3 separate regions of the Homo sapiens genome follow, and regions 2 and 3 are each linked to region 1. The links come from fine-mapping of genetic effects on gene expression. A gene starts in region 1. Each other region holds a variant in brackets. All regions are shown on one strand. Distances are from middle to middle. Region 1 holds the start of SYNGR1 (synaptogyrin 1). Region 2 overlaps SYNGR1 (synaptogyrin 1). Region 3 overlaps TAB1 (TGF-beta activated kinase 1 (MAP3K7) binding protein 1).

Evidence for each region. PIP is the estimated chance that this variant, and not a neighbour inherited with it, causes the effect.
Region 2: its variant is fine-mapped to the expression of SYNGR1 in whole blood (TOPMed, PIP above 0.99).
Region 3: its variant is fine-mapped to the expression of SYNGR1 in tibial artery (GTEx, PIP 0.93).

The regions. Positions count from the first base shown.
Region 1 is chr22:39,347,731-39,354,460 of GRCh38, forward strand. It overlaps SYNGR1 (synaptogyrin 1), which reads left to right and starts at 2,261. Exons shown (of 4, transcript NM_004711.5): 1 at 2,261-2,379. The coding sequence starts at 2,281. RefSeq lists a silencer at 2,308-2,467 and an enhancer at 3,691-3,740.
Region 2 is chr22:39,376,965-39,384,831 of GRCh38, forward strand. SYNGR1 (synaptogyrin 1) reads left to right here. Exons shown (of 4, transcript NM_004711.5): 4 at 4,732-7,867. The coding sequence ends at 4,950. Among named protein-coding and RNA genes, the nearest start is that of TAB1, 19 kb to the right of the region's middle. RefSeq lists a silencer at 7,820-7,867. The variant T/C (reference allele first, on the strand shown) is at 4,210.
Region 3 is chr22:39,402,827-39,410,693 of GRCh38, forward strand. All of the region lies in intron 1 of TAB1 (TGF-beta activated kinase 1 (MAP3K7) binding protein 1), which reads left to right. Among named protein-coding and RNA genes, the nearest start is that of TAB1, 7.0 kb to the left of the region's middle. The variant G/A (reference allele first, on the strand shown) is at 2,917.

The DNA.
Region 1 (6,730 bases):
CAGCTTGTATTTCTGACTAATGATGTTGGGCATCTTTTCTTTTCTTTCTTTCTTTCTTTTTTTTTTTTTTTTTTTTTTTTTGAGACAGAGTCTCGTTCTGTCGCCCAGGCTGGAGTGCAGTGGCGCGATCTCGGCTCACTGCAAGCTCCGCCTCCCGGGTTCACGCCATTCTCCTGCTTCAGCCTCCCGAGTAGCTGGGACTACAGCCACTACACCCGGCTAATTTTTTTTTTTTTTTTTTTGTATTTTTACTAGAGATGAGGTTTCACCGTGTTAGCCAGGATGGTCTCAATCTCCTGACCTCATGATCTGCCCGTCTCGGCCTCCCAAAGTGCTGGGATTATAGGCGTGAGCCACCGCGGATGCTGGGCATCTTTTTATGTGCTGAGTTGCCGTGTGTATATCTTCTTTGGTGAGGTGTATAACTATTCAAATCTTTTGCCCATTTTTTAAAAAGTGGGTCCTCTTATTATTATTGAGTTCGAACGTTCTTTATTTGGGATGCAAGTTCTTTAGATCTATGCTTTGCAAATATTTTCTCCCAGACTATCGTTTGTCTTTTCATACATTCTTTTAACAATGTCTTTTAAAGAACAGAAGTTCTTAATTTTGATAAAGTCCAGTTTATCAATTGTTTCTTTTATGAATCATGTTCTTCATGATTTTTTTTTTTTTTTTTTTTTTTTGAGACGGAGTCTCGCTCTGTTGCCAGGCTGGAGTGCTGTGGCGCGATCTCGGCTCACTGCAACCTCCACCTCCTGGGTTCAAGTGATTCTCCTGCCTCAGCCTCCCAAGTAGCTGGGACTACAGGAGCTCGCCACCACGCCCGGCTAATTTTTGTATTTTTAGTAGAGACCGGGTTCACCATGTTGGCCAGGATGGTCTCAATCACTTGACCTTGTGATCCATCCACCTTGGCCTCCCAAGGTGCTGGGATTACAGGCGTGAACCACTGCGCCCGGCCTTCTCTTGTGCTTTCTTCTAAAAGTTTTATATAGTCATAGTAGACACCTTATAAGTGTGCTGGATTAAATGTGAAAATGTATGTAAAGCCCTTAGCACAAGGCCTGGTAGAGACTAAACAATCAGCTGAGCCTAAGATGGACATTGACTATGTAATTTTTATAAGGAGCACCCTCAGGCCCAGCACACATTTCCTCCACACAGATGTTGTGTCCTGTCATCACAGAATGGCAGGATACCAGAGAAGCAAAAGCCTCCACCCATATCCTCATCCAACCTGCTCCTGGAACCAGTGAAGGTGACTGCAGACATAGAGAGGCCATAGAGCTACAGGGCAGCAGGAGAGCCAGCCCTGGAAGGTGGCCCTTCCCCTGCAGGGAGCACTCCTCCATCTAGCCTCCGTTTCCATGAAACCTGGAGGTCTAGCCCAAGCTGTGATGGGGTGATGGGGACTAGGCTCTGTTTACTGAGCACCTACTGTATGCTAGGCCCTTGGGTAAGGCATTGAATAAGTTAGACAACACCTGGGCCTCGGGAGCTCACAGACTAGCAGCAGAAGAGGCCATGAACAAATGATTGCGTAATTAATTGCTAGATTCAGGAAAGGGGCAACGTTCTGGGGTAGGAGGGGATGGGGAAGAGGAAGTCTCAGCCGCCGCCTCTGTGCCAGGCCCCTCCAGGCTGGGGGTGGGAGGGTGCGCGGGCACAGGGACACACATGACGTCATCGTAAGAGGCAGGGGAAGGGTGGTCCTGGGAGGTGGGGGCTGCTCTGGAGGGCTGTAAGAGAGGGTCATTCACTCGTGGTTCATTCATTCGAGAAATATTCATGCGGCGCCTACTGCGTACCAAGCACCCTCTAAGAAGGACGAACACAGCTCCTGCCCTCTCATTATATTTGGGGCCGACAAAGTGGCAGGAAACAGCCAAACAAATCAAGCGTGAAGATGGTTTCAGCAGAGCCGACGGCTCAGAGGGGCTGCGACCGGGGCAGGGGACCGGGGATGCGGGGCAGGGACACGGCCCACACTTGCTGTGCACGCACCGCCCTCCCCCAAACACTTTGCAAAGAGGTCACCGCACTGGCTGCGAGCGCGCCCTGAGCCCCGGGCCGCAGCACGCGCGCCCCCGCGCCCGAGGTCGCGCGCTGCCCAGCCCCCCGCCCGCGCCCCGCGAGCTGCGCCCGCCGCGCACGACGCCCCCTCGCGGGAGCCCTGGGCCGCCGGCCGCGCGCGCAGGGGAGGGGGCGGGGGCGCCGCGCACGCGCACGGGCCGGCGGCGCGCGCCGAGCGGGGGGCACCGCGCGGGTGCAGCCACGATGGAAGGGGGTGCGTACGGAGCGGGCAAAGCCGGGGGCGCCTTCGACCCCTACACCCTGGTCCGGCAGCCGCACACCATCCTGCGCGTCGTGTCTTGGGTAAGGACGGACTGGCCGACGGCTCTGCCAGGCCGGGGTGGTGGGGGTGTGAGCAAAGGCGGCGCGCCCGGACCGACCCCGACCCCGACCCCAACGGGCCCCCGGCGGCGGCGCGGCGGCGGGCGAGGAGCTGTCCTGCCTGCGGGGCCCGCTGCCGCCGCTCCTCCTTCCCGGGCCCGGGGCGGGCGGGATCCCTGGTGCTCGCGGGAGACGCCGCTCCGGCTCCCGGAGCCCTGGTTTCCTGGGGCCCCCGGTTCGTGCGCCCCCCTTCCCGCCCCGATTGCTGTGACCTCCAGGCCGCGGCTATGCCGCGAAAGGCTCGGATTGTGCGCGGCCGCCAGGGCGGACTGGGGACCGTGGGGACGGAGCCAGGGTTTAAGGTGGCCTTTTTTGGGGGGTGGATCAGGGCGTGGACCATCTCGGTGGGGTGCATGCCGCGCCTGCGATGGACGTTGGAGGAGGAGAGGGCCGGGAACCGGGTTCGTATTGCCTAGCCCGGCCCGTGTGGAGCGATGAGTCGGGAACTGAGTACCTCTCTTCCACCCGGGAACTGCCTCTCCTTCTCTGCGTGACCTTGGGCTGGGAGCCACCCAGGAAATGTTCTCGAGAAATGAGGACTTCAATTCCGAGGTGGGGAGTGTCATCTCCTCTCTCATGCCTCAGTTTCCCAATTTATAGACAAGGTGGGCGGAGCCTTCTTGAGGCCCCCTTGGGCTCTGACATTTCATGAACCGGTAACACCCCTCCCACTCAGCATGCACCTGGATGCCCAAGGCGGGTGTCTGGGAGAAAGGTCTGCTCCCACAGTGAAGAGGCCAGGGTGGCCTCCAGCCTAGCTGGGGGGCAGGGTCCTCAGTGCAGAGGGCTGAGTGGGCTCTTGTTCAGACGGGTGGTCAGGGAGAGGATGGGTCAGAGACAGTGAGCACAGAGGGAGGGGTTCAGGTGCCTTGAGTGGCACCTCATGGAAAGAAGCCCTGCTGGGGTCTGGAGAGGGGGTTTCTGGGGCTCCCTGGGTTTGGCTGGCTGTATCCCAGAAACTCCCACTCGAGGTTCTGGCCTCTGCAGGCCTGGGGCCCGTTCCTTGTGGGCTTAGACTAGGAATGGGCTAGACTGTCAGGGACCCCAGGGGCTACCCCAAGGCCAGCTGTGACCTCAGGGTGCCCAAGCTTCCTCCTTTCCTTGGTTTTCAGGGTCTGGTTGGTAGGATGGCTTGGGTATGTATCCCTGGTCTGCGAAGGATGACCCCATTTAAAGCCTTTTCTTCTCAAATGCCGTCAGATGGGAGCTGTTTGAGGGCAGGAAAGCCCAGTTCCTTTAACCCTTGTGTCGGTGCCTGCACAGAGCCGGGCACCCCAGCACATCTGTGTTTGTGGCTCTGAATTCATTTATCTGTGCCAGTCTCCTGCTCCCCAGATGCCCCAACAGACCCTTGCCAAAGGTGGGAGCCCTGGGGGGCACCTGCCGGATCAGGCGGGTGGGCTGCGTTCACTGCTTTAGTCTGCCCACCCCTGGGCCTCTGGCCTGGAAGGGCGAAGCCACTGGCTTTGTGAGGGGGCTTGTCTGCTTGGGTCATTTCTGCCTCTGATGCCTTCATTTAGCAAAGCTTTATTGAATCTGCTGGGCCCCAAGGGAAGGCAGCGTGACTCAGAAGCAGCCCTTGTTCTCGGGAAGCCACAGTCCCACTGGGGAGTGAGCCAGGTGCCCCCAGGCAGAGGCCGCAAGAGCCAGGAGAGGGGTCTCCCTGCTGTGGAATCAAATTTCATGGTGAAGGTGATGTCAGATTGGGCCTGGTGGGATGAGGGTTTATACATATGCACATCCAGGGGAGAGGACGTGGAAAGCAGGAGGAAGGATCAGCCCCTCTGAGCACCCATGGGGTGCAAGACCACACACAGCTACCTAGCTGGTTCCCCAACACTAGAGGAAGCTGCGGCTCAGCGAGCGAGGCCAAGTGCCTGGCCCAAAGTCACTAAGCATGTAAGTGGCAGACGAGCATTTGAGCCTAGGTCTTCCTGTCTCCAAAGAGTAGTTCTCCCCCTGGGGCAGGGAAGAATCCAGAATCCTGGAATGTCAGGATTGGAAAGGACACAAAGGTCACCTGGACCAACCAATGCTCAAACGACCCCACAGCCTCCCAGTCCTGCTCACACACGTGGATACAAGGCGCTCACTACCTTTGTCGAACCAAGAGGTGTCTGATACAGGCTGATTGACACCTTTAAAAGTAGCTTTTTTTCCTGATCAGAGTAATACCTGCCAATTATTGGAAAGTATAAAAATCACATGTGATGGTTGCACGGTAGGAATGTACTTAACACCACTGAAATGGTGAAGATGGTAAATTGTATGTTACGTGTGTTTTACCACAACAGAAAAAGTTTGGTGGGGGGTGGTAATCATGTGATACCACCACTTAGGGAGGGCTGCAGTGAATAGGGTGCTGTCTCCTTCTGGTCTTTTCGAAACTGTGTGGCGTGCTGAGCCATTTAAACACATCAGGAGCTGCGGGGGATGCAGCTGGCGCCTGCTCTTGGCCCTCACACCACAGGGCAGAGCAAGTGAAGCTGAGCTCCAGGACCAGGGTGACCCGTTTATCCTGGTGTGCTGGAACTTCCTGCCTTTAGCATTCTGAGAGGCCCTTAGTCCAGACAAACAGGGACAATTTGTCACCCTGTCCAGGACTCCTGGACAACCCAGACCCCTACCACAGCCCTGGAGGGGCCCTAACAGCATGTGCACATGAACCTGTGATTGTTTTTTTTCTTTTTTTGAGATGGAGTCTTGCTCTGTTGCCCAGGCTGGAGTACAATGGTGCCATCTCGGCTCATTGCAACCTCCGCCTCCCAGGTTCAAGCAACTCTACTGCCTCGGCCTCCCAAGTAGCTGGGACTACAGGCACACACCACCACGCCCAGCTAATTTTTGTATTTTTAGTAGAGATGGGGTTTCACCATGTTAGCCAGGCTGGTCTCGAACTCCTGACCTCAGGTGATCCACCTGCCTTGGCCTCCCAACGTGCTGGGATTACAGGCGTGAGCCACCGCACCCGGCCTGGACCTGGGATTTTTGTAAAATTTGTAAAAGAAAGATTTTTTTTTCTGTTGCTTTTCCAAAAGAGGGCCCCCAAATCATGTAAGCTTCAGGGCCTCACCAACCTGGACCCACCCTGGAACCCAAGCCCTCTGAGCCCCTGGGTCAGCCTGCACAGAAGCAGGGCCTCCAAGACCTGGCTTGTCTCTTTTTTATTTTTTTAGAGACAGGATCTTGCTGTGTTGCCCAGGCTGGTCTCAGACTCCTGGACTCAAGTGATCCTCCCACCTCAGCCTTGTGAGCAGCTGGGACGATGAGGCGAGGCGTGGGCCACTGCATCCGGCATGGCTTGTCTCTTGACTAAGGCTTTCTCACCTCTTGGTGTCATCGCCCCAGTGGCAGATCAGCTGCCACTCCTGGCACCCCCAGGCCACAGCTGTGACCTTCAGTAAGTGTCCCCTCCCCACCCTCTGTGCCTCAGTCTTCCCACCCGAACTGGGCTGGGCTGGGTCAGAAGTGCCTGATCTGTTGCGCGGTGACTGCCGCCTGTCAGTGACTCATTTCTTTGTTCTAAAGCCAGATGGGAAAAAAAGGAGTTACAGCAAGAAGCTAAACTGATTTAATAGAAAGGACCACCTTTTATTTGGAGTTTATATTCTTTTTTGCAGGGGGCTAAGATGGACTATAGGGAATGAATATCAGTGCTGGCAGATGAGTTTTTTGTTTGTTTGTTTTTTGTTTTTGAGATGGAGTCTCGCTCTGTCTCCAGGCTAGAGTGCAGTGGCGCGATCTTGGCTCACTGCAACCTCTGCCTCCTGGTTTCAAGTGATTCTCCTGCCTCAGCCTCCCAAATAGCTGGGATTACAGGCACCCACCACCATGCCCAGCTACTTTTTAAATTTTTAGTAGAGACGGGGTTTCACCATCTTGGCCAGGCTGGTCTCAAACTCCTGACCTAGTGATCCACCCGCCTCAGCCTCCCAAAGTGCTGGGATTACAGGTGTGAGCCACCGTGCCCAGTCAATGTTTCTTTAATTCTCTACTTTGACAAAATGAAAATGATAAAATGTTTGAAATGTTGCCATTTTCAGGGTTCATTTTTTAAGGGCTTTGGCCATAATACCACATGGTTCTGTAAGTGGGGTGGGTATCTTCCCCCCGTTTTACAAATGACAGAATTAAGGCTCAGCCTGGAGAAGTGACTTGTGCTAGCTCAAGGCCTGGGCTTGTCAGAGACTTGGTTTGAACCCGGACTGCTGGGCTCCACATTCTGTGTACTCCCTGTGGGTTCTCTGCCTGGATATCCATGGCACCAAGGGGT
Region 2 (7,867 bases), 30 kb after region 1:
CACTGGTCTGGGTCATGTCTGTTTCTTCTCTCCTAATCACCCTTCTGCAGAGATCTGGGGCCACATCACCTCCATAGCCCCATCCCAAGAGCCCTCCCCATAACCCACAGCTGCCTCCCCTCTGGACCGGCGAGCACTTCTGGGCCCAGCCTCCTGCAAGGAGACTCTTGAGGCTACATACAGGCCGCCAGCCGTCCCTGTTTCCCCCATCCTTCTGGTTTGCCCCGGGTTGACGTCTTTTTCTTTTTGAGGGCCCCTGGATATCCATTTTTGAGGGGTACACCCATCTCCCCAACAATATTAGAAGATAGCATTTGGAGGGGGAGACCCGTGGTTCAGGCCCTAGTGGGCCAGCCTTGGCTGCTCCACCCCTCAGTGTCCTCAAGACTGGGTAGGAAGAACCAGGTGACCCCAGGGGATCTCAGTCCAGAGAAGGTGCCCCAGAAGTGGGGACCACCCAGCCTACAGGGAGGAGTTTAGGGGCGGGGCTCACAGAGGAGTAGTGGATGATTTCTAGCCATGGGTCTGAAGTACCTGACCAACAGGTGCCTGCCCGGCCCCCTGAAGCCAGCCTCCCTCCTGGCACCTCTGCAGCTCTTCCCCACTGGCCTCACCCCTACTCTCTCCTGGCAGAGCCTGACCGCAGCCCTGGCCGTGCGGAGATTCAAGGACCTAAGCTTCCAGGAGGAGTACAGCACACTGTTCCCTGCCTCGGCACAGCCGTAGGCCTCCCCGGCTTGCAGAGGCCGGCAGCCCTGTATCACCCCTGGCAGTGAGGTGGCAGGAGCAGCCTAGTGCCAGAAATGTCCAAGATGCCAGGGCATGCAGGGCAGTGGAAGGCTGGCTTGAGGAACCAATTCAGGTTCTCCACTGACTCATTCATTCCTTCACCGCCTCCTTCATTGATTCTTCATGCGTTCATTCATTCAGTAAACATTTATTGAGCAGCTGTTTTGTGCCTAGTGATGAATTAGGTGGGGTCCTTGGCTCCAGGAGCCCACAGGCTGGGGAGGAGAAAACAAACACATCAATATCTCTTCCAAATGGACAGCCGTGGACAGTTACCAGGTAGGTAGCGGCCCCATACATGGGCTGCCTAGAGGCGTTCATGGTCCCCATTGCTGAGCTGTGGGTGCAGAGCAATAGCCTCTCCCTTCACAGCGGTGTGAAGAGTGACCTCACTGTCCTTAGGGTTAGCATCCTGGCCGAGGATGTCACAGGGCTCCTGGTCTGGCTCTGTCCTCATGTGCTATGTGACCCTGACAAACCCGTGCACCTCTCTCAGCCTCAGTCCACTTACCTGAACTGAGGGGTGATAATGGACCAACCTCTCAAGGCTGTTGTGCCAATGAAACAAAGGCCAGCCCAGGGCTTAGCACAAGCATGCTCAATAAATGTAAGCTCTTTTGTTCATTCATTCATTCATTCATTCATTCTTCTCTCCAGAGAGTCAGGGGCACCTCCAGAATCTCTACTTTAAGAGTAATTCTCATGTGATGAATCCTTGTTCCTCCAAAGGATTTTGGTCTCTGGTTCTACACAGGTTTCCTGCTTGAGGCCCCCAGCTGCCTGGGCAGGAACTCACCCATTCCTCCACTCTCTGCTGGAGTTGAGGAGGCTGGTGGAGCACAGACAGTTCCCCCAAAGCAATGCCTCAACCCTGCGAGGGCCTGAGCACATCGAGAGTGAGCTTCCTGGCACTGGAGGCATCCCAGTGCAGATGCAGACTGCCTGCTGCACGCTGGAGATGCTGCAGAGAGAGCACCTACACTGAGAAAGTGGGGCCAGGGGACCACCAGGTCCCTGGGCTCTCAGTAGAACTCCCATCCTCCCTCTGCAGCCCAGGCCAGCGGGGGCCCAGGCCTCTCCTTTGCTCCTGTCTTGTGGCCCCTTAAACTGGTTGCCCAAATGAAGCTTTGACTTAGTGAGGGCAGAGAGCTGAACACAGAGACAGTATGAGTGCCTACAGCCAGAGGCATCTCCCTAGAAGGATCAGTAGGGGTCATCTGCTCCAGCCCTCTGCCTCTGTACAGGAAACCAGCCTGGATAGTAGAGCCAGGGAGCTCGGGGAGAACCGCGTCTACAGACATTGCTCTCAAGGTTCATTCAGTCAGTTCCTGTGGGCTGGCCAGGGCTCAAGTGTACCCTCAGGGGGCTCTTCACCTCCCCTGCTTCTTCAGGCTCCGGCGTCTGAGCCCCCAGCAGCCAGGACCTCATGCTAACATAGTGGGAAACCCCAGAGGGCTACACCTTATCCCTTAGCCCAATTTCTTTAGACCTAGTCTGCCTTTCCCAAGGTGCTGGCACTTTGCTTTAAATACCCACCTCCCAGAAAGTGCTTCCCCTCAGAACTTTGGTCAATGAGTACAATCAAAAGGTAATGCCCTAGCTGGGCATGGTGGCTCATGCCTGTGATCCCAGCACTTTGGGAGGCCAAGGCAGGCGGATCACCTGAGGTCAGGAGTTTGAGACCAGCCTGGCCAACATGGCAAAACCCCGTCTCTACTAAAAATACAAAAATTAGCTTGGTGTGGTGGCGGGTACCTGTAATCCCAGCTACTTGGGAGGCTGAGGCAGGAGAATCACTTGAACCCAGGAGGCAGATGTTGCAGTGAGCCAAGGTTGTGTCATTGCACCCCATCCTGGGTGACAGAGCGAGACTCTGTCTCAAAAAAAAAAAGAAAAAAAAAAAGGAAATGCCCAGTCACTGGGTTTCTGGAACTTTGTGGAATAAAACGCTAGGTATATTCACTCTCTACCTCTTCACTAAGTGGCTCTTTAGGTTGTTGGTTGACTTAGTGCCTCGTCAGGGGCCAGTGAAAGGGAAGGAGGTGAGGGCGCCCTGACCTGGGAAGGGGTAGGACCCCATGTTTAGGGAAGGGTTCTAGCAGTAACTCTGCCACGGGCACTTCCTTTTCTAGGCCTCAATCTTCCCAGCCCTAAAACAGGGGTCTGGAGAGTATCAGCACATTCCCATCACAGGCAGATTCCCCGGGCCGGGAAAGTTTCTGGAGAAGGCTTTTGCAATAAACCTCTAAGCTGCTTTTCTAATGACAAGTTTGATTTACTTAAACTTTGACTTAGCTCAGTGTGGTCAGTGTCATTGTCCTTAATAACAATGTAATTGCTTTTATTGAAAAATAATTTCCTAACCATGCATGTGTGCTGTAGACAAGTCTTTCCCAATCTGAGATCTGTGAAAAAAAAAAAAAAAACGGGGCGGCTTCAGGCTAGGCGCGGTCACATTGAATAGTCAGGGCTCTGCCAAGTCAGATGATCCTGAAACTTGTTTCACTCTATTTAACTCAGTTTCTCACTTAGAATTAGGTTCAGCAGCAGGTGACCGAAATCCCAGATAACAGTGATTTCAACAAAGTCCAAGGCTGTGGAAGTGGTCCAGGGCTGGCATACTGGCTCCAGAGGTCTTCGGTGACCCAGGCATCTTTCCTTTTTTTTAGAGACAGGGTCTCACTCTGTTGCCCAGGCTGGATCATAGCTCACTGCAGCCTCAAACCCATAGGCTCAGGCAATCCTCCCACCTCAGCCTCCTGAGTAGCTGGGACTACAGGCCAGTACCACTATGCCCGGCTAATTTGGTTTTTGTGGATTTTTTTGGTAGAGATGGGGTCTTGCTATGTTGCCCAAGCTGGCCTTTTTTTTTTTTTTTTTTTTTTTTGAGACAGTCTCACTTTGTTGCCCAGGCTAGAGTGCAGTGGCGCTGTCTCAGGGTACTGCAACCTCCGCCTCCTGGGTTCAAGCGATTCTCCTGCTTGCACCTCCCGAGTAGCTGGGATTACAGGTGATGCCACCATGCCCAGCTAATTTTTTTAATTTTCAGTAGAGATGGGGTTTCACCATGTTGGCCAGGCTGGTCTCAAACTCCTGACCTCAAGTAATCTGCCCATCTTGGCCTCTCAAAGTGCTGGGATTGCAAGCATGAGTTGTCGCGCCTGGCCTCTCCTGCTTTCAAGAAGAAGATCAGATTGTTATTGTGCCTGCTGTTTTTCAAGTGCCTTTAACTCAACATAGTCAATATGCCAGAGGTGCATATTTTAGCCCAGGCTGGTCTTGATCTCCTGGCCTCAAGCAATCCTTCCACCTTGGCCTATCAAAGTTGTGGGATTACAGGCATGAGCCGCGGTGCATGGCCCCCAGGCATCTTTCATTCCTACAGACTTGGCTCATGGTCTTTGTGGTCCCTTTTGGCAA[T/C]TAGAGCTCCAGCCATCACATCTGTGTTCCAGGCATCAGGTCAGAGGGTGGGACAGAGAACATGAGGGTACCCCATTGGCCAAAACGTAGTCACATGGCCATGCCTAGCTGCAAGAGAGACAAAAGAATGACTCTTAGGAGATGCTAACAGTCCTTTGTCCCGCTGAGAAGCTTTTTTTAAGAAGGCTGTTGTGAGCCTTTGAGCCATCTTAACACTCCATAATGGAGATCTAGAACTTTTGGTAGCCCAGACTGACCTCTGGGATTGGGAGACAGGGGCAGGTGATTTCTGGGGTACTTTCTGGCTGGATGATATGGTTCTGGGCATTTCCGGGGGTGGCTGCGAGAACAGCCTTCCTTCTCCACAGCCAAGCTTGGTCTCATGTTTGGTGCTTTGAGGATCTTTAACCCTCTCCTGCCTGTGTCCTGTGAACTAACCACCACTAACCCAGTGCTCTTGTCTGTCTCTCCCCTAACCACCCCCTCCCGCCTGTCCTTGTCCTCGCCGGCCTTTGTCCCCAGGCGGGCCAGGCTGTGCTGGCCTTCCAGCGGTACCAGATTGGCGCCGACTCGGCCCTCTTCTCCCAGGACTACATGGACCCCAGCCAGGACTCCAGCATGCCTTACGCGCCCTACGTGGAGCCCACTGGGCCGGATCCCGCCGGTATGGGCGGCACCTACCAGCAGCCGGCCAACACCTTCGACACCGAGCCCCAGGGCTACCAGTCGCAGGGCTACTGAGCCACAGTGACCGCCTGCCCCCGCCCCTCCCCATCTGTCCCCTCTCTCCACACCCAGCCCCTGCTCCTGCCCAGGCTGCCCTGCCCAGCGCCTCATCAGCCTCTGCCTTGTCCCACTGAGGTCCAGGGTAGCTCGGGGCAGGGGTGGGGCAGTCCAGTGTTGGGGACTGTCTACGTATGTGCAAGTATATCCCAGGGCATGTGCCCCGCAGGGGCCTAGAGGGTGGGGGCCAGGGGTATTTGCATTCATACATTGTGTCATCAAGCATTCCTTGAGCGCCTACTGGGCATCCGGCCTGTGCTGGGCATGGGTGGTGACATTGGCAGAAATGGCCACTGGAAAGGGGAGCGATGAGCTGTGGAGGAAGCCCTGGTGGTACCAGAGGCCAGAATGGTGGGAAAGACAGATCCAGATAATGCTGGGAAGTGTGGCTACACCGTGGCTTGGTCATAGGGTGAGTGTAAACACCCACAGGACACTGGGGGCTGTCACCCTGCTCTGGCAGTCCTGCTAAGAGTGTCAGGGCCGTCTCCATTTTATGGTTGAGGAAACTGAGGTCTAGAGAGGTCAAGATTACTTGCCCAGAATCACTCAGGCAGCTAGTGATAGAGGTGGGGCCAAGCCCAGGCTGCCCGACTGCAGACCACGTGCTCTTCCCTGGCCACCCACCTCCTACCATCCCCACGCTTGGGGCTTCCCTGCTCAGTGTTACTGTCATTCTGGGAGGCCTTGGGGCCCTCAGCCCCTTGAGACACCCTGATTCTGCTGCATGCCAAGGGCCTGTTCTGCCCCAGCTGTTCCTCCTCCCCTGGGGACAGCCCCACCTCCGGGTCCCTCCACCCACATCCCCCTGGTCCTACCCCTGGCCCTTGGCCTCCTCCAAGAGGGCTCACCCCGGGTGCTGCTCTGTGCTCTGCGTGTCCCACAGACGCTTGTTCCAGGGGGCTCCAGCAAACCCCTTCGTGGTCTCTCAAAGGACTGATCACTGTCCTTGCCTCTAGGAGGGGTCACTAAGCCCTTACCTAGGGCTGGGTGGACAACAAGGCACAGATGAGGGTGTGACTGGCCCGAGGTCACGGTGAGTGAGTGGCAAAGCTGGCCCTGACGCCTGGGTTTCTTGGCCCCAGCTGCCCAGCAGGTGCCTCGATTCCCTGCCCTTGTGACCTCCCAGGAAACAGAACTGATCTGGGACACTATGTCACCTCTCCTCTCATCTGGGGTCAGTCAGGGTTCGGGGGCTGCAGCAGCCAAGCGCATGAGAGGTGTTTCCTTGGCCTTCCAGAAGGCCCACTGTGGAGCCAGCCTCCCTATGGGAGGCAGAGCGGCAAGGACAGGGCTTTGGAATCAGCCAGGTCGGCTCCTGGGCTGTGGCCGTGGAGAGACACTGCCCCCAGGATGACACAGGCAAGAGCCCCTGAGGCATGGGAGGCCCAGGGAAGACCATGGGCTGTAGGGGAGAGTGTGGCAGGTGACCCAAAGGCCCAAAGAGGGCCGTGGGGCCTGAGGAGGTCATAATCTCTTCTGAGTGGGGGCAGGTCGATTCTTGCACAAGGTGGGCTCTTCACTGAGCCATAAGGGACAGGGAGGTATGGGAGAGCGCTGGGGGCCCATCCCCCTGTCCACCCAGTGTCCACTGGCCTGTCCTTCAGGGAGCAGAGCAGAGCAGGTGGTGGACGGGCCCAGTGCTGGGTGTTTTCACCACCATCCCCCCATCCCCCATCTAAGAATCCTAAGAGGCAGGCGATCCCTCACCTGCTTACTCACTCAGCAGTTACCCGGCCCCTGTGCTGGAGATACCAAGGGCATGGGTGGTCCCTGCTTCGATGGCCCCAAAGCTGGGCCAGAGTTAAGGGAAAGAGGAGGAAGTCCTAAGCAGAGAAGTAGCACCATTATCCCCATTTAACAGAAGGGAAACTGAGGCTCGGCAAGCATAGGCGAGTTGGCAGTGGAACACGGATCTAAACTCAGGTGTGTCCAAGTCCTCCCAAAGGACAGCAGTGATGGAGAGGACCCCAGCCAGCTGTGTGACAGCTGGTTGTTGCTGACTTCATTTTCCAATCCGGAGAAGGGGCTCTGTCCACAGTCCCCCGCCGCCAGGTGGCCCACATGGGACCAGCATGGGGGCAGGTTATCTGTTGGCCTGAAGAGTGAAACCTGTACCAGGCCAAAGGTGAGGGCGTGAGTGAGGGCAGGAGTGTTTATGGCAGAGTGAAGTTCTGTGCCCACCACAAGAGGCTGTGAGATGTTCTGACCCTCACCCACTGTCCACCAAAAGCCTCTCCTGCTGATGGGCACTAGGAGACCTCAGGGTACTGCCCATCTGTTTCTCCTCGGGTGCCAGCCAGCTGCTGGTGATCCTCAGCCGGAGGGCAGGGTACCAGGTAAGCTTAACTCCATCTTGGGTGTTTGTGACAGGCCCTGCCTGCCACCCTAGGCAGGGAAAGCTGTCAAGACTCCTGCCAGGAATGGGGGGTGCTGAGTCATCTCACGAAGAATCCCTCACTCTTCCCGGGTTCAGCCCAGAAGCCCTTCCAGGCATGATCTTCCCCATCAGGCTGGGCTCTGGCAGGGACCTGCCCAGGATGGAGATGAGAGAGGGTGAGAGATGGAGGGCGAGATTTGGATGGGACCCAGGGCTCCTGACTCTGCCCTGGAAGGTTCATGGGGAAACTCGCTCCTTCTGTTGGCAGAGGACAGCCCCTGGGGAACCCCAGGCCCAACTCTGTCCGGTATCCCTTTTCCTCCCAGCTGCCCTCCCCTACTTCTCCCTTGCTCCCAAAGCTTTCCTTGGAGAAGGGCCCTCCTGCAGCTGGACCCTGCAGGGTGGCTCCCTCCTCCCCATCAAGCACAAGAGAGGGCCCAGGAAAAAAGGTTTCACATAAGTGTAGAGTCGCAAGGACGCTTAGAGTCGGCAGAG
Region 3 (7,867 bases), 56 kb after region 1:
CAGGTGTGAGCCACTGTGCCCGGCCACAAAGAGGTTCTAAGGAGAGCTTGATGTGTTCAAAAGGACCCAGACCTTTCAGCCGGATAAAACAGTGTTAGTCTCATACTGGCTTTGGGCAAATCACTTTATGTCCCTGAGCCTTAGTTTCTCCAAACCAAGAGGACTCTGGGGAGTATTGTTGGTGTTAAAGGAACTGACACATTCCACTACTAGCCTGGCTTGGTTGCCCGCTAACCAGAAACTTCTACCTTCAGTGCTGCCGTGAGTGAATGCTGTTCATTCCCTTAAATGTCCCTGAGCACTCACTATGTGCTAGGCACCCTGCAGGTGCAGGAGACACCGCCTTTGTGGAGCTGATGGTCTAGTAAAGGGGACAGACAGTGAGCACCGAACAGATACAGATCATCTGTGATTTTGTAATATCCAAACTACAGCATCAGGTGGTGCTATGAGGAACAGTCTAGATTCACACACAGAATGTTGGGGGTGCCATTTTGGACAGGGTGGTAAGGGAAGACTTCTCCACATTTGATGAGATGAAAACGGGGAAATGGGGGCAGCATTCCTGCCCAAGGGAGCAGGAGATGCAAAGGCTGCTGTTTCAGGAGCCTCAGGGGTGCTGGTGCAGCTGGGTGGAGTGCCTTGGGGGAGCTTGGGAGTAGCTGAGGTCTGAGGGAGCCGGGGGCCATGCTGGGCTTCACAGGTCCTGATGTGGCCTCTGGATTCCATTCTTCATGTGATGTGAAGCTTTCATGGGGAGCAGATTGAGTAGGGACCTGATGTGATGTGACTTTTGATTGGAGAAAAATCCCTCTTTTTTTTTTTTTTTTGAGACGGAGTCTCGCTCTGTTGCCCAGGCTGGAGTGCAGTGGCGCAATCTCAGCTCACTGCAAGCTCCGCCTCCCAGGTTCACGCCATTCTCCTGCCTCAGCCTCCCAAGTAGCTGGGACTACAGGCACCCACCACCACACCCAGCTAACTTTTTGTATTTTTTTTTTTAGTAGAGACGGGGTTTCACCGTGTTAGCCAGGATGGTCTCGATCTCCTGACCTCGTGATCTGCCAGCCTCGGCCTCCCAAAGTGCTGGGATTACAGGCGTGAGCCACCGTGCCCGGCCGAAAAATCCCTCTTTTGAGTTTGAGTGGTGAGAGTGGAAGCCTGGGACCTCCTAAGAGACTCCTAGAGTCATCCAGGTGCGAGAAGGTGTCTTGGCCATGGGGATGGCAGAAGAATGGTGGGAAGTATCAGATTCCAGTTGTGTTTTGGAGGAAGAGCTCATGTGATTTGCTGATGGATTGAATGTGAGGTGTGTGACAGAGGAAGAAGAGTCAAAAAGGACTCTTAAGGTTTTGGTTTAAACAACAGTGGTGCCATTTACGGGGTGAGGGAGCCCTGGAAGAGGGGCACCCTGGGGCAGGGGGAATCAAGAGTTTGATTTTGCCTGTACTGTTACTTAATTATAAAAAAGAAAATCAGGCTAGGCATGGTGGCTCATGCCTGGAATCCCAGCCCTTTGGGAGGCTGAGGCAGGAGGATCACTTGAGGCCAGGAGTTCCAGATCAGCTCGGGCAACATAGTGAGATTCAGTCTTTAAAAAAATTAGTGAGGCATGGTGGTATGTGCCTGTAGTACTTAGGAGACTTAATGGGGTGATTGCCTGAGCCCAGAAGTTTGAGGTTGTAGTGAGGCTATGATCCCCTCACTGCACTCCAGGCTGGGTGACACAGCAAGACCTGTTTAAAAAAAAAAAAAGAAAGTAAGCTTAAAATCAATTTTTTAAACTTCGACATGTCCTGAGCAATTATATCTGAGATCATAGGTGCTGCTATCTGTGTAATTTATCTAAAGGATGTTAAAATAAATACATAGCCACTAAAATAAAAAGGTCCATGGGGGTACCACCTATACCCATTGCATACACCCAGCTGCTGCCCTAGCACATTGGAAGTGCCAACAATGATTATTAGCCCCTTTAAGAATGAATGAGGAGCTCTTTAGGATGACGACATGGAGAACCTTCAATGAAAACTCCGGTGGGAGAAGTGGGGGCCAGGAGTGGAGCTGGTCTCAGAGAAGTGGGTCATCCGGAAGGTTGGAGGTGGTGGGGGCATTGGGGCCTTGGAAGCTTTTTGGAGAGAAAGGTCTGCTGCTCCCCTGCTCCGAGCCCTCTTCCTGGGGTTGTGAGTCTCCCTTTCTGAGCTTCCTTTTTGCTTCTAAGGAATGTGGGTGCTTTTACCACAAAAACACTTGGCCTTTTCATAGCATAATTTGGTATTCAAGCTGTGGCCTGAGCTTGGAACCATTCTTTGTCCATTTCTGCTGCCCAGGACTTTGAGATGAGTCTGTGTGGGTACTTTGTGAACTATTATGTGACATGGACACATATATACATGAGGAGTGAATGCTTACATCATGCACAGGGTGTTTGTAAAGGCCTTGTTGGGTTAAATACTGTTGGATCACTGTAGAAGCTTTTCATACCGAAACATTAATTTTGGAAACTCCTTCACAAAATCAAATCAAAATTAGGTCTTTTGAAACAGGCTTCTTAACGTATTCTTGTGAAATTTCTCATGAGCAGTTCATTTCTCAGACATGGAAGAGTTAAGTCCTGCGTTCGCTGTTGTGTGTGTTGCAGTGGCTCCGCGATGAGGCTGTGCTGAGTGAGAGACGCCCCCTTCTCAGCTTCTCGCAGACTCTTGCTCCCTGCGCTCCAGCGCCGCTCACGGCTGGTGCTGGCAGGCCTGGCATTTGGGGGCGTGGGAGAAAGTATGCATCAGTGTGTGCAGGGGTGGAGGGGTGGGTGGTTTGTGTGAATAGAAAGTACATGACCTTTCTGAAAATTGTTCAGAAATGTGGAGGAAGGAAGCGAGAGACTTGGCAGTCCTGTAGGCTTTAATGGAATCAGCAATGGAC[G/A]CTCGGTATGGCTAATCCTCGATGGAGATGGAAAGGGACGGGAGAACACGATCCAAGCCTACTCAGCTGCAGCAGCGTGAGTCCGCTGGGGAACACGGAGAAGACCAGATACTCTCACTCCCACTTGGTAGAACCTCCTGAGGTTCTCCGGCCACTGTAGTGAACCAGTGTCTGGCGAGCGCCCGAATTACGTGAGAAACTGCCCATGTGTCATTGGATCTAAGACACCAATGTTTTAAGGACACGTCAGTGTTTTGTCTATTGCTCAGAAAGAGAACTCACAGCTAATTAACTTGTAACATACCAACTCCAGAGACGTTAACATGTGGAAAATGTAGGTCTTCAAATCAGTGAAATAAGGTAATCTAATTAACAATACCAGGCTATAGCACAATGGTTGCCACAGGGCCACTTTGGGAGGCCAAGGCGTGTGGATCACAAGGTCAGGAGTTCAAGACCAGCCTGGCCAAGATGGTGAAACCACGTCTCTACTAAAAATACAAAAAATTAGCCGGGCATGGTGGCACGCACCTGTAATCCCAGCTACTCCAGAGGCTGAGGCAGAGAATTGCTTAAACCTGGAGGGGCAGAGCTTGCAGTGAGCCAAGATCGCGCCACTGCACTCCAGCCTGGGCGACAGAGTGAGACTGTCACCAAAAAAAAAAAAAAAAAAAAAGGAATCATTTGAGTGAAAGATAGTTTCTTGAAGATGGTCAGTGGATGATTGAGGTTTGGGAATCATGGGCCTCTGGCCCTAGTTGGATTTGAGCAGTGCCTTTAGGGTAGATAGGACTTAAAAAGACAGAAAGGGACAGGCTTTGCCTTACCATGGGTACTTTTACATATGCTCTTTGGGTAATTTTTTTCTTACTCTTTCTTTATTTTTTTTTAATTTATTTTTTATTTTTGAGACGGAGTCTTGCTGTGTCGCCCAGGCTGGAGTGCAGTGGCGCCATCTCGGCTCACTGCAAGCTCTGCCTCCCGGGTTCACACCATTCTCCTGCCTCCGCCTCTGGAGTAGCTGGGACTACAGGCACCCACCACCACGCCCACCTAATTTTTTTGTATTTTTAGTAGAGACGGGGTTTCACCGTGTTAGCCAGGATGGTCTCAATCTCTTGACCTCATGATCTGCCCGCCTTGGCCTCCCAAAGTGCTGGGATTACAGGCGTGAGCCACTGCGCCCGGCCTCTGGTCACAGTTTTTTAGAGATTGTTTGGAACAGTGAGTAGAAGGCCTTGTCTGTACAAGATACACAGCTGAGTGAGATTGTTAATCTGTCAAAGGGCAAAATTCAAAACTTTCGACAGTCTGGAAGGCTGGGATGAATGCATTAAGATGTAATTCGACTGATATAAATTTAGATTTAAAACAACCTTCTATAGTAGTTTGGCTGGGGGAGACAGACATGGTAGAAACTCACAGGAAAAGGACTTTGTTATTTTACATTACATAGAGGCTAGATGCTCATCTTCTCTTGGGTATATGAAAGCTGTTGATTTGCATACTTTGATTTTCTATCCTGCCGCCTAACTGATTTCTTTTTCTGTTTGCATTAGTTTTTCATTGATTCTTTAGGGTTGCCAGGCGTACTGTCCTATCAACTGCAAATAGAAATGACTTCTTTCCCGGTTTTTATGCTCTCATTCTTTACTCTGTCTAACTGCCTGGGCTAACACCTCCAGTTCTGTGTGAAGTAATAGAGTGGGCAGCCTTGCTATGGCCCTGATCATTTGTTGTTGTTTTGTTTTTTTTTTTTGAGAGGGAGCCTCACTCTGTCTCCCAGGCTGGAGTGCAGTGGCGTGATCTCGGCTCACTGCACGCTCTGCCTCCCGGGTTCCAGCGATTCTCCTTCCTCAGCTTCCCGATAGTAGATGGGACTACAGGCGTCTGCCACCACGCCCGGCTAATTTTTTGTATTTTTAGTAGAGACGGGGTTTTGCTGTGTTAGCCAGGATGGTCTCGATCTCCTGACCTCGTGATTCGCCGGTCTCGGCCTCCTAAAGTGCTCAGATTGCAGGTGTGAGCCACCGTGCCCAGCCTAATTTTTTGTATTTTTAGTAGAGACGGGTTTTCACCATGTTAGCCAGGATGGTCTCAATCTCTTGACCTCGTGATCTGCCCGCCTCAGCCTCCCAAGGTGCTGGGATTACAGATGTGGGCCACCATGCCCAGCCCTATGGCCCTGATCTTAATGAAGTGTTCCCCACTGAGTAAGTTGCCAGCATTAGGGCTGAAGTATACAGAGTAGCATGTTCAGAAAGGAGCCATCAGTTTCTGTTTTCTGGAGTGTTTTTACCAAGAATGGACCAAGACTCCTTAGATAAACAATAGCACTAGTGTCCATACTTACTGACCCAAACACCATTTGCCAGTTTATAAAATAATAAATTCCAGAAATATTACTGCCTCAACATTATGAAAATCAGATTTCCTAAAAAAGTACTTAGCAGTGTTGAAATATCTAGACACTATTCACGGGTACTTAATGAACAAGGCACGTGCTCAGTAGATTGATTGCCGTCAGACACACAGTTTTTCTCATTTGGGAAAGTTAGTTATTCCCACATCAGCCAAATACAGCACAGCATACAGTGGTCAGTAGATCATCAGCTTACTCCTGGTCTCCTGTTGTGAAACGCTCTCAGATGAATTGTTCTTGTGCCATGACACACCAACGTGGCAAGTTCCTCAGTTGCCTGTTTGAGCTTGTTTCTTTCTTTACTTGTGGAAGACAATTTCACTGGCGTTTTTTGTTTTTGTTTTTGTTTTTTGAGACGGAGTCTCGCTCTGTCATCCAGGCTGGAGTGCAGTGGCGTGTGCGATCTCGGCTCTCTGCAACCTCCACCTCCTGGGTTCAAGCAATTCTTCTGCCTCAGCCTTCCGAGTAGCTGAGACTACAGGCGCTTGCCACCACACCCGGTTAATTTTTGTATTTTTAGTAGAGACAGGGTTTCACCATATTGGCCAGGCTGGTCTTGAACTCCTGACTTGGTGATCCACCCACCTCGGCCTCCCAAAGTGCTGGGATTACAGGATTGATCCACCGTGCCTGGCCTCACTGGCCTTTTTTAATAGTGTATGTCTAATGTGGAACAGACCCATAAGTTGCTTGGGTCTTATTTATTTGGCTGGGAAACTATGGATTTTTTTAGAAAGATTCAAGTCCTTGGAAGCCTGTGTCTGTCCCTTATGGGAATTAGATACTGGCAGAGGAGGTAACTGTGATTACAGCATCGAAGACAGGTTTTGCATTGTGGTGACACATTTGTGTTAATATTATTCATCTCATATGAGAGGATGAGTTCATCTTAATCTCATTTTTAATCACAGCCTTCTAGAAAATAGAAATATCTTTTCCTCCCATGCTTTAAAACACCTGTGGCACTTTGGGGTGCTAAATATTGACTTCTTTGGCCATCTTTTCAGGAGGAAGACATGGGATACTCCTGACTGGGTAGATGCTTTTGTATTTCTGCTTAACCTCATAATTAATTTCATTCCAGCTGGTGGCAGGAGACAGACTAGAAAAGGAGCTACCTTTGGAAGTATATTTGCCTGGTTATAGGAGACTTTTGTGAGCTCGCTGGAAATGAAAATATACTAAGCAGATCTAAGACATAGGGGATAATTGGCAACATTTATCAGTTACCTGAAGAATACTTAATTCACTGGTTATTAACTCATTCCCATGGCCCAGAGGCCTTGCACTGCCCTCCCCCCCAGGCACATACGTGCACACATATTTGCAAACACGGCATGGAGCGTCTTTCCCCTGTGCTCACTAGAGAGGCCACACCAGCCTTCTCGTGCTTCCGTAAACCTGACATGCTTTTTTCCATCTTAGGGTCTTTTTACGTTCCGCTCCCTCTGCCTGGAAGCCTCCTTCTCTGCCTTCTAGAAGGTCACTGCCCCATAGTCATTCAGGTCTGGCTCAGACGTCACCTCCCCAGAGAGGTCTGCTTTTCTGACCACTTCATCTAGAGGCCCCCACCGCCCATCACGCTGTGTCCCATTACCATGGTGTGTTTTCTTCCTAGCACGTAGCGCTGTCTGAGATTGCCTTATTATTGTATTGTGTGTTTGAATTCTCTCTCTCCCTAGAAGGGAGGCTTCAAATAAGGAGCCTCTCTGTTTTCTCTTCTGTGTCCGCAGTACCCAGAATACTGCCAGACTGTTGCAAATGCTCAGCAGATATTTATTGAAAGAATGTATGTAGTGATTTAATGTACTGTAATCACATAATATCATATGTGGGTCCGGAAGACCTAAGTTCCCATTTATGTTAAGAGAGGCATTAATTTTGCTTTAAAATGAAACAGTTCAAGATTAGAACTAGACCCAATTTTGTGTTACTGTGAAGCCGTTTTTCTTCTTCTTTTTGAGACTGAGTCTCACTCTGTCATCCAGGCTGGAGTGCAGTGGTGTGATCTCAGCTCACTGCAACCTCCACCTCCTGCATTCAAGTGATTCTCCTGCCTCAGCCTCCTGAGTAGTTGGAATTACAGGTGCGCACCACCACGCCTGGCTAATTTTTGTATTTTTAGTAGAGACAGGATTTTGCCACATTGCCCAGGCTAGTCTCAAACTCCTGACCTCAAGTGATCCACCTGCCTCAGCCTCCCCAAGTGCTGGGATTACAGGCGTGAGCCACTGTGCCAGGTCAGCAGTTTTTCTTTTGGCGTTGCTTGTACTGAAAGTGTTAAATTTAAGCCTGGTGTCATGAGGAGCTGAGCAGAATTGTTGCCATTTCTACTTTTTTTTTTTTTTAATTTAGTTGTGACATACTTGGCTCAGCTAGCACTTACTGCCATTTCATCTTCCTTTTTTTTTTCATTTCCATTAGTAGGGTTTGGTTATACTGTCTATTTTCAAAGGCTATTAGAAGGCGTTAGTAGCTTTTCAGACCTTGTAGTAAAATTGTGTTAATAAAAATAAATAAATAAAAGTC